Regions from separate parts of the Homo sapiens genome. Here all the other regions are reported to be linked to region 3. Evidence: microRNA targets listed by miRTarBase, many of them from high-throughput screens and not tested one by one. Region 3 holds a microRNA gene; each other region holds the end of a gene's coding sequence.
Evidence for each region. The annotated mature microRNA hsa-miR-200c-3p reads UAAUACUGCCGGGUAAUGAUGGA and lies in region 3 at 1,294-1,316, opposite strand. An mRNA with a match to its seed (bases 2 to 7 or 8) in the 3' UTR can be bound and repressed. Matches are read on the target gene's strand: a 7mer-m8 pairs with bases 2 to 8, a 7mer-A1 pairs with bases 2 to 7 and ends in A, and an 8mer does both.

Region 1 (3,000 bases), not on the chromosome of region 3:
AGGAGTTAACGGTTCTCCGCTTTATTATTTTTTCCTGCTTTGGCGGTGACAGCATTGTCTGGGCTCCGGGGCCGTGGGGGAACATGGTGGTGGAAGGGGGCGGAGGCCGGTAAGACCCCGGACTCGTTAAAGGGCCCTAGAGTCGGTCCTGGATCCAAACCCCATTCATGGTTTGGCGGTCTGGGGCGCAGGGAGCCTGCGTGTGCACAGGCTCGGGTCAGGACCCCACGGGGCCACCGCGGGCACCGCACGGACACCCCGACACACGAGCACCCACACCCCCAGACGGGCACCCGGAGACACGGGCGCCCAGCAGACGCAGGCAGGACGCGCTCAGACAAGGACACACAGACACCGCGGCGCGCGGCCACACGAGGCTCGGCCACCCGCCGCCACGCGTCCCCGGGGGGTCCCGCACCCGTCGCCGCGCGCCCGGCCCCGCCGCGCCCCGGTTACCTTCATGTCGTTGACTATGGCCTGGAAGAGCCCGCCCAGGGCGCCGCACTCCTTCTCCGCCGTCTCCATGCTCTGGCTGGGCCGGGCCGCGGCGGCGGCTAGGCGCACGGAGCGCGGGGAGCAGCGCAAGGGAGGGGGCCAGGCCGCGCGGGCGCTCGCTCCGAGGCCGGGCCGGGCCTCCCGCCTCCAGGCTGCGCTCAGCGGCCGGCCGCGCCGCGCTCCGGGGTCGCGGGCCTCCGGCGGGCGGCGCGGGCCATGTCGCAGCGGGGCTGGCGGGCGGCGCGGGGGGCGCGGCGCGGGCAGCTCGCGGCGCAGCCTCGGCGCGGGGACTGACGGCGGCGGTAATCCGAGCCGCCGAGGATCGGGCGTCACGTGGGCGCGGCGGAGGGGGGACCGCGAGGAGGGAGGGAAGGAGGGCGGGCCGCGCGGGAGGGGGCTGTGGGAACGGCCGCGCGGGCGCAGGCCCATTCACGGCCAGAAACCAGGGCTTTGAAATCCGAGCCCGGGCGCTGCCAGACTGGTCCGGCGAGCGGGGCCGACGGGCGCGGGCGCCACCGAGGGTCGGGGGGCGGCGCTGGGCGGGGCCCGCCCTGCCCACGCAGGAGCGGGACTGGCGGTTGGGCCTCGGCCCCCGGGCAGGGGCTCCACGATATCTTCTGGCCTTTGGTCTGGGGCGGGGGGCTTCTCGCGCTTCTAAAGACAGGCAGTGGGTACAGTGGCGGGATGGGGTCGGTGCATGGGCTGGATGGGTGGCATACACCGCACACAGCAGGGCGCGGGGTATCGTGGAGCCGCCCGCCTTGGGACGTTTCATCGCAGGCACAGACCTTCCTCAAGTTCGGACCCTTCCAAGTTCCTTGGCTCCTTCTCCAAGTGGTGCCGATGCCACCCGGATGGGGTGCCCAAGGCTGGGCATTTGGGGGGCAGTGGTAGTCTCCTGGGCCTTGAACAACCTCCTTCTTCGCGGGTGGGGGCTAATGTCGGACCTGCAGAGCAGAGCTGGAGTGTCCTTGGTCTCTGCTGCCTGAGTCCACGGTGGGTGCGATGCACACACGTGCATGGGGTAGCAATGTCAATCGCAGCCTGTCCTGGAGACTCCAGGCAGGGAAACCCACCCTGGGGGGCAGCACGATGGGGGAGCGCACTCTGGGGAAGAGCAGGCACAAGCTCCTTCTCGCCTACTCCATGGGCCGGAGGGAGCCAATTACAAGCTCATTAGGAGACCAAGCCCAGGGTTCCCAAAGCCTGGGGACAGGTGGTACCACTCCCGGTGAGGAAGGGCTTTCAGCTGCAGCAGTGGTTGGGGCACCTGCCCCTCCCTGGACTGCTCTGGGCTTTTCCTCCCCTTGCCCCGAGATCTGCAAAGTGTTCTGCAGTGTGCATTGCCCTTTCATCCAGGAACTCCTGGGGCTCAGCTCCCATGTCCCCAGTGGGGAACTCCCATTGCCCCAGGGAGTCAGGATGAGAAAGGCAGATTGGGGAAGGCAGGGTTCAGGATTCCAGGGCAGGCAGTGCATGGTGCTCTCCAGGAGGGTGCAGGTTCCAGAGGTGGGGACCTAGGCTCTAGGCCCATGGCTCCACTCAGGTGAGTGCAGGGACCAGGCCCTGGGGCAGCCAGTACTCCTTGGGGCCATCATGAAACCCGATCTCCAGGACAGAGGGTGAGGCCCCCGGACAGCTGCACGTGTCAGCTGGGAAGGAGCAGGCCGGCTCGGGTTGAGGGTTTTCTGTTATTTCTTTATTGGGGTGGGGGTGGGGTGCATCATTCAGATCTTTGTGCTGGTGCCTACGTGCATACAAGTACACACACACACACACACACACAGGCATGTGTTCACGTATGTATACATATACACACAAGGCCAGAGCTCTAGTGTGCTGGAGGAGGGGCAAGCTCTTTTTCCAAGAGGGTATTAGAAAGAGGTTGATTCCAGAGGATGAGTGGTCTCTGAGGCTATAGCCCCCCACTGGGTGGGCAGCCAGCTCTGTGAGAATGCCAGGGTGCAGCTGACAGCGCTGGAGGCCTGGGGACTGGACTCTGAGAGGAGCTTGGGCAGACACAGCAGCCTCCGGCCCCAACACTGCCCTGGGTTGGCAGGCCCAGCCCTGGTCCTGACAGGCAGGTCCTTGAGCTCCTCGGGAGGGCGTGACGACCCTTAGTGTTTCATGGGACCACTCGGTGGGCCCTCCTCCGTGCCAGGCCTGTCAGAGGACAACCCTCCGGTCCAGGTGGTCCCCACGCCCGCTCCGCTGGTGCCGCACTTCCAGGTGCTTGTTCTGGACCTTCTCAAAGTGCTGCAGCAGCTCTGCGTAGTCGATGCTAGGGGAGTCAGCTTTCTGGGACTTGGGGGCTGCCTTTAGACTGTCTCTGGGAAGAGGGAGCAGAAATGCTCAGTGTCAGGGATCAGCTCACAGGGGGGTTACTGCTGGAGGGCAGTGGGGTCAGAGGCAGAGCCACAGGCTGGTGGGCTCGGCCTGTGGGCGTCTGTCTCAGGCCTGGCAACTCTTCCGTCATGGCGGGCCCCAGAGCTGGGAAGCCCCTGA
Region 2 (3,000 bases), not on the chromosome of region 3:
TTTCTTCCACAATGCCTTTACCCTGGAGCAATAAAGAAAGCAAAAGGAGCCGACCAGCTTTCTCCATATTATGGAATCAAGCCAAGTGATTATATTTCTGGTTCTCTTGTCATCCATAACACTGACATCGAGCAAAGCAGAAATGCAGAAAATGAATCTCCTAAAGGCCAGGCTTCCTCAAATGGGTGTGCTGCGCTGAAGAAAGATTCTCTGCCATTGTTGCCCAAAAATCGAGGAATGGTAATAGTGAATGGTGGACTGAAACAAGATGAGAGACCTGCTGCCAACCCACAGCAAGAGAACATTTCCCAGAATCCTCAGCACGAAGACGACCACAAATCTCCCTCGTGGATCTCTGAGAACCCATTAGCTGCCAATGAGAATGTCTCACCAGGAATTCCCTCAGCAGAGGAACAGTTGTCTAGTATAGCAAAAGGTGTGAATGGTTCCAGCCAGGCTCCAACCAGTGGGAAATATTGCCGGCTATGTGATATCCAGTTCAACAACCTTTCAAACTTTATAACTCACAAGAAGTTTTATTGCTCATCACATGCAGCAGAACATGTCAAATGAACTAACTAAACATCAGTCACCTTTGGTATCAGTGTTTAGTATGTTGTTCTAACCAGTCCAGAAAAAAAAATAAGCTGTTTGAATTACATCTGGGCAATCAGGAGATAATTCATTATGGCTGAGTTGAAGACTTAAGGTGTAATTTCATTACAGTCCATTAGTAAAGTGTATTATTGGTGCCATTTTCAAAAAAATTAATTTATTTTACCAGCAGTATTCATAGCTGTGGTTATGTTATTTTTTATTTAAAAACTTTATATTAAAGTCATTTGTAATGTTATTGTATAGTTATTGTGTAGCACATATGGTTTGCACTGTATAGTAGCTTTTAAAGAAAATAGTCACAATACAGAAAAGCATTTTAGAAATAGCTTCAAAAGCACTTGTGTATCTTGATTTTTTCTTATATGCTGTTGCAGATATATGTATATGCTAAAATATAACTTGCAAAGATGTTCTAAATACACATGCTATAAGTTCGCCTTAAGATTTCAATTCTTGGATAATCAGGCTCTGTTTGCACTTTATATTTTAGCAGATACAGTCTCTTAGTCACTAGGCTTTGCATTTGTATGTAGCTGTATGTTTCCGTCCATTTTCTTAATCCTGAACCTGTATGTTAAATGAAGATGGCAATTTTTTTCTTGTATAGTACTTGTATTTTCTTTCGCTGATGCAGCTCTGTCTCAATTTTTAAACCTTTGCTGTTAAATGCAATACTTTATAAAGAATGAACAAAATTACTGGAAGCAGTATTGTAAGTAATGAGGTAGTATTAATCAGTTTTATCTTTTGAAAGGCACAGTCTAAATCGAAACCCTAAACTCAATGCTGCAAGTATGAATTTAATTCATATATAAGATCTATTTAAATATAAGAGTAGCAATACTGCACCTGGTGATCACAAAGATAATGTTCTACTTCTGATAGAAATAATTTCTCAACAAATGTTGTTACTATGCATGTATATGGATGGAATAAAATTCCAGATTGTTGGAGAAGTTTGGCACACTTTTTTTCCCTTCAAAATAGAAGAGAAGCCCTAAATCTATTCTTTGTGATGAAAATAGTTTCCAAATGGCACCGAATGGCTGTAATAACACAATGACAAATCAGTAAAGAGAAAGATTGTCCTTTACATACACCTAATTAATATAACTTGCTCTATTAAAATGAACTAGAGGCTCCAGGCCACGAAACTAGAAAAGTTCTTCATTATAACTATGTATAATTAGCAGAATCTCTCTGTCTGCCTTTCCCCATCATCGCTGCAGCACAGATAAAGAGCAATTTCATGCATGTCTACAAAACTTACAAGCCATATGCACAAGAATCAACACAAATGTTGGTCAAATGCACCCAAGATTCAGATGAAATTTACCAGAGAGAGAGGTTTGCATTTTGAGCAATGGTGACGTGGTATGGTAAAGTGACTCTGATGAGTAAAGATGTGCAAATCTAATGCTCAGGATTTGTAAAAGATTGATTTTGTACATCTCATTTGTATAATCCAGGAGTTTGCATATTGAGGGTGAGTGGAGAGCAGAGAATGTGGGCCTAATGGACCAGCCAGAAGCATTGAGAGTGACTTGGCAGGCATGATGGTCTCCTGCAAAATTAGAAATCTCCTGACTTGGAAAGGCAACTACCCACTTGAGGCTAAGAAGATACACTCTTTACAGATAGATAGGTTGTGATGCACTATTGTTCATCCATATTGAATCTGGTAACATAACGAGCATAAATGTTGGCCTTAAGCATAACATACAAATACTGTGACAAAACATAAAAAAAAAATACTATGTTGTCAAAAACATGTCTCCACTTGCTTGTTGAGAATAACTATTTTCAGAATTGAAATCACGGAATTAACTGATGCCTTCCATTTCAGTCAGTGATTAAACAGTGAGGTGAACAGGACTAATGTGCTTAATAGTGTGAAACAGGAATCTCTCAAAGTATGAGATCCTTGGGGATCAATGGAGATGTTCAGAAAGACCTTTGTGGTGCACAGGTTGGAATTGGTAGGGCTGAGTATTCTTAAGAGGACTTTCTTCCCCAATCTCTTTTTCGTCCTCTTTCCTCTTCAAAAAGAAAGAAAGAAAAAAAATTAGCCAAACCGACATATATTTATTGATTACGTGGCTTGTATCCACTATTTAGGGGATGAAGGCAAAGAAATATAACACATGACTATTTCCTCAAAGAGCTTATAATTTGATTCAATTTAGTGCTTCTCAACACTTCTCTCATTAAAATTGCCTAAGGAACATTTAAAAATGCCAGTTATTTATATAGTTTTGTACACTGGGCCTTACCCTAGATCAATTAAAGAAACACTCAAGCCTGTGAGCTCTGAGAATCTGTACCTTATAAAACCTCTCCAGGTGGTTCTAATATGCAAACAGTGTTGGGAAATATTGAAAG
Region 3 (3,258 bases):
ACCCCAACAGGAGCTGCTTCCTTGGCAGCAGGGTTCCTTGTGGCTGTGGGGAGCCTGCCTGTGCCTGTTGAGGCACTTCTGTGCCCAGAAGCCCAGTGGATCGCGTGGCCTGCTGTAGGCCCCCCAGACTCCATTTCTCAGTCACCAGGCGTGAGGAGCTGCTAGCTAACAGGCCTCCCCTGGGGAGGTGGGCTTTTCATGCCCGCAGTTCCGGGGCCAACAGAACAGGTGCCTGTCTGTTCAGTCCACAGATAAGCTGACACTTATCTTCCCAAGACAGGCCTTCCCGAATCTCAGGCACCAGAGAAACAGAGCCACCGTTTATACCTGAATCTCCCACTACTGCCCATTTCCCATCCCTGCGGGGAGACAAGGAAGATGTGGAACTCAGACAAAACATAGGTGCAAAGTATGTCCAGGAACTGCCAAATGCAGATAGGGCAGCAGGTGGATCTGAACAGAGGGACTGGGTTAATCTGCTTCGATTTTTAAGATATTTTTCTCTGCTTGGGGTTGAGTATCATGAAAGACAAAGCAGACGTCGCAGCCCCAATCCTGAGTTGCTGGGAGGCTAAGATGAGATAAACAACTAGACAAAAGACAGGTCAAGTGACTTGGATCAGTCTTCCTCATGTTCCCCTTCACACTTTATTTATTTCATGCTCCCAAGGCGGGAAGACAATGGAGGTGCCTAGGGAACCAGTGTTTCCACATCTTGCTGCAGCTGTAAAGGCAGCCATTTTGTCTCCTTCCCATTGTTCCCCTTTGCCTAGTGATTCGTCCCCCATCCAGAGGGGTGAAGGTCAGAGGTTGTTGGTCAGTAGTCCTCCATGGTCTTCAGGGCTCCCTGAAGGTTACTGCCGAGAGAACCCACCCGGGAGCCATCTTTACCAGACAGTGTTAGGAGCTTCACAATTAGACCATCCAACACTGTACTGGAAGATGGACCCAGGGCCGGCCGACAGAGAACTACGGTGCGCGCTCACCAGTTGCTACAGGGGACCCTGGCCACAGGCCAGGTGAGGTCTCTTGAGAGGGGGCGAGCCAACCCCAAGCTCAAGGTCGACTGTGGGTTCTGGATCCACCAGGTGACAAATCGCACTGGGTGGGAGGAGGGGCTGGGGCCCATTGTGTCCCTTAGTGGCAGCCAGCCAACAAGAACCACCCCTTGTGCAACGCTCTCAGCTCAAGACGAGGGGCTTCCGGGGTGCGTGGGAAGTGGGGAGGGGGCTGCAGCCAGCTAAGGGCTGGGGACCTGAGGCGATGGATGTTGCTGACACAGGGACAGGGGCCTCCATCATTACCCGGCAGTATTAGAGACTCCCAACCGCACCCAAACACTGCTGGGTAAGACGAGGGCCCCCGCCCAGCCCGCCCACCTTGGGTCAGGCAGCTTCAGGCCCAGGATCCCTGCGGAAAAGCTGCAGATCCCTGGCTCCCATCCCCCCACCACCCGAGTCCCTGGGGACACTTCCTGGTGAGCCCTGCTGCCCGCCACCAGCCACACCCTGGGTCGCTGATCACGAGGCCCAGGTTGCAGTCCAAGCAGGCCCTCCGAAGCCCCTCGACCGTCGGCCCGCCGCCTCTGAGCCACCTTCCCCTACCCCCGGCAGCCTTTCCCGACCCGCGACACACACCGATTTACCCACCCTCATCCCCCCTCTGCAGTCCCAAGCTCAGCCCAGGACCTCTCCCCTGGTGGCCTTTACCTGTCACCGGGCCCACCTGCCCCCAGAGAGTGGGTGCTGGGGAGACGAAGGGGCTTTAAGGCCCCAGATTCCACGGCCTAGAGCCCGCCCTGGCCTCCGCTCTTCCTCCTTCCTTCTCCGCCTGCCGGGCAGCCAGCGCAGGCTCCTTACCTGGGCCCCGCCTGCCACCCTGCGCACAGGTGTGTCCTCCTGCCATAGGCTGCCCCCCCACTGCCTTAACCCCTTCCCTCCCAGCGCCAGCCACGGGCACCTCCTCTAAGGCTTGGCCACTCCTCTAGGCCTCCCACCCTCTCCCAGGGGCCTCTTTTCTCCAACCTGCCTAGTCTCACCCCTGTCTCCAGAGGTACAAAAAGCGGGGGCTGTCCTTGGGTCCCCTCCCCACAGCAGATGCTGCCCCCAGGACTAGCCCATTCCTCTGTGGCCTCAGACCCTGCCCACAGCGGAGCTGCAGGCCAGAGAGATCCCTGAGGTCAGCGAGGGGTCAGCTGGGCAGGAGTTGGGCTGTGCCGCCCCGCAGTGCCCAGCCTGTGCTGGGATCCCCTGAGGGAAAGGGGAGGGAGAAGGCCCCGCCAGGCCTGTGAAGGGCAGGCGGGTCCCAGCAAGGTGTCGCTAGTGTGAAGTTACCCACCGCTACCCAGAGACCCCAGCTGGCCCGGAGCATCAGCCTTGCCCCTCGATTGAGGCCTGCAGAGGGAACGATCGCGCTCCACTCTCCGGACCGAGCTGCTCCCGGACCCACCTCACAGCACAGCCCTCAGTGGAGTCCAAGTCCCACCCCAAGGGCAGGTAGCCCAAGGGCGGTTAGAGGAGGTGGGACTTGCCTTTGTGCAGCTGCGGCTTGTATAGAAAGGGCGTTGCTGGGAGAGGGGACCTGGGCCCGACAGGTGATTGCCCCACCCGTGCCCTGGAGGGCCACAGCCCCAGGGAGCTATTGGGTTGCTCAATCCCTCGCTGTTCTCTCTCCCAGGCTTTGTTTGCTTCCTTCTTAATACCCGCCTGCAATTATTTGATGCTTGTGATCGGTTTGTGAATCTGTCTCCCTGACCAGCCTCCTAAGTTCCAGGAGGTCGGGGGACTGTGAATGCCTGTGACGCCGGGGGCTCTGTAAGGATTTGCTGAGTAATGCACGCCCAGCCTCTGGGCTTTGGGACCTGTGCTGTCTCAGCCTTTCCAGGAGTGGGCGCCAGCACTTCCTGAGGGATGACTCCCACCGGCTTTACTCCCCAGGACACCAGTGTTTCAAATAAAGAAGAAACCCCACTCCTGACATGGGGGAAGGAAGAGGGGACAAAAAACAAAGCACTCTTCACGTCAGCCAGCTCTTCAAACTCTGCCCAAGAGGATAAGGGCAGCAGCGGCCTGGATGAGGGGAGGAGCTGGGCGTGCCCGGGTGCTCTGAGGAGCCTGTCCCTGTTCCCGCCAGAGGGGACGCAGCCGGGCTGGCCTCAGGTCTGCGCTTCCGGCTGTTAACTACTCTTCTTAGTTCAGATCTGGAACTCAGCATCAGGGGAGTGTGATCAGGGCCCCCCTGAGGGTGGCCCCAGCTGCA

Region 1: miRTarBase lists VAC14 as a target of hsa-miR-200c-3p. The part of its 3' UTR that is shown has no 7-base or 8-base seed match.
Region 2: the mRNA of ZFPM2 is a reported target of hsa-miR-200c-3p. Seed matches in the 3' UTR shown: 7mer-m8 at 785-791, 7mer-m8 at 1,324-1,330 and 7mer-A1 at 1,345-1,351.

What each region holds. Positions count from the first base shown.
Region 1 is chr16:70,685,267-70,688,266 of GRCh38, forward strand. It overlaps VAC14 (VAC14 component of PIKFYVE complex), which reads right to left. Exons shown (of 19, transcript NM_018052.5): 19 at 2,173-2,824. The coding sequence ends at 2,662. It overlaps MTSS2 (MTSS I-BAR domain containing 2), which reads right to left and starts at 787. Exons shown (of 15, transcript NM_138383.3): 1 at 457-787. The coding sequence starts at 525. RefSeq lists an enhancer at 2,315-2,821.
Region 2 is chr8:105,802,966-105,805,965 of GRCh38, forward strand. ZFPM2 (zinc finger protein, FOG family member 2) reads left to right here. Exons shown (of 8, transcript NM_012082.4): 8 at 1-1,574. The coding sequence ends at 573. All of the region lies in intron 2 of ZFPM2-AS1 (ZFPM2 antisense RNA 1), which reads right to left. Among named protein-coding and RNA genes, the nearest start is that of ZFPM2-AS1, 260 kb to the right of the region's middle. RefSeq lists an enhancer at 1-451.
Region 3 is chr12:6,961,800-6,965,057 of GRCh38, reverse strand. It overlaps MIR200C (microRNA 200c), which reads right to left and starts at 1,359; the gene lies at 1,292-1,359. MIR200CHG (MIR200C and MIR141 host gene) reads right to left here and starts at 1,813. Exons shown (of 2, transcript NR_135032.1): 1 at 1,710-1,813; 2 at 611-857. It overlaps MIR141 (microRNA 141), which reads right to left and starts at 961; the gene lies at 867-961. It overlaps LOC105369634 (a long non-coding RNA gene), which reads left to right and starts at 1,959. Exons shown (of 2, transcript XR_931601.2): 1 at 1,959-2,519; 2 at 2,937-3,258. RefSeq lists enhancers at 67-116, 1,899-2,700, 2,942-3,151, 2,960-3,258, 2,701-3,258.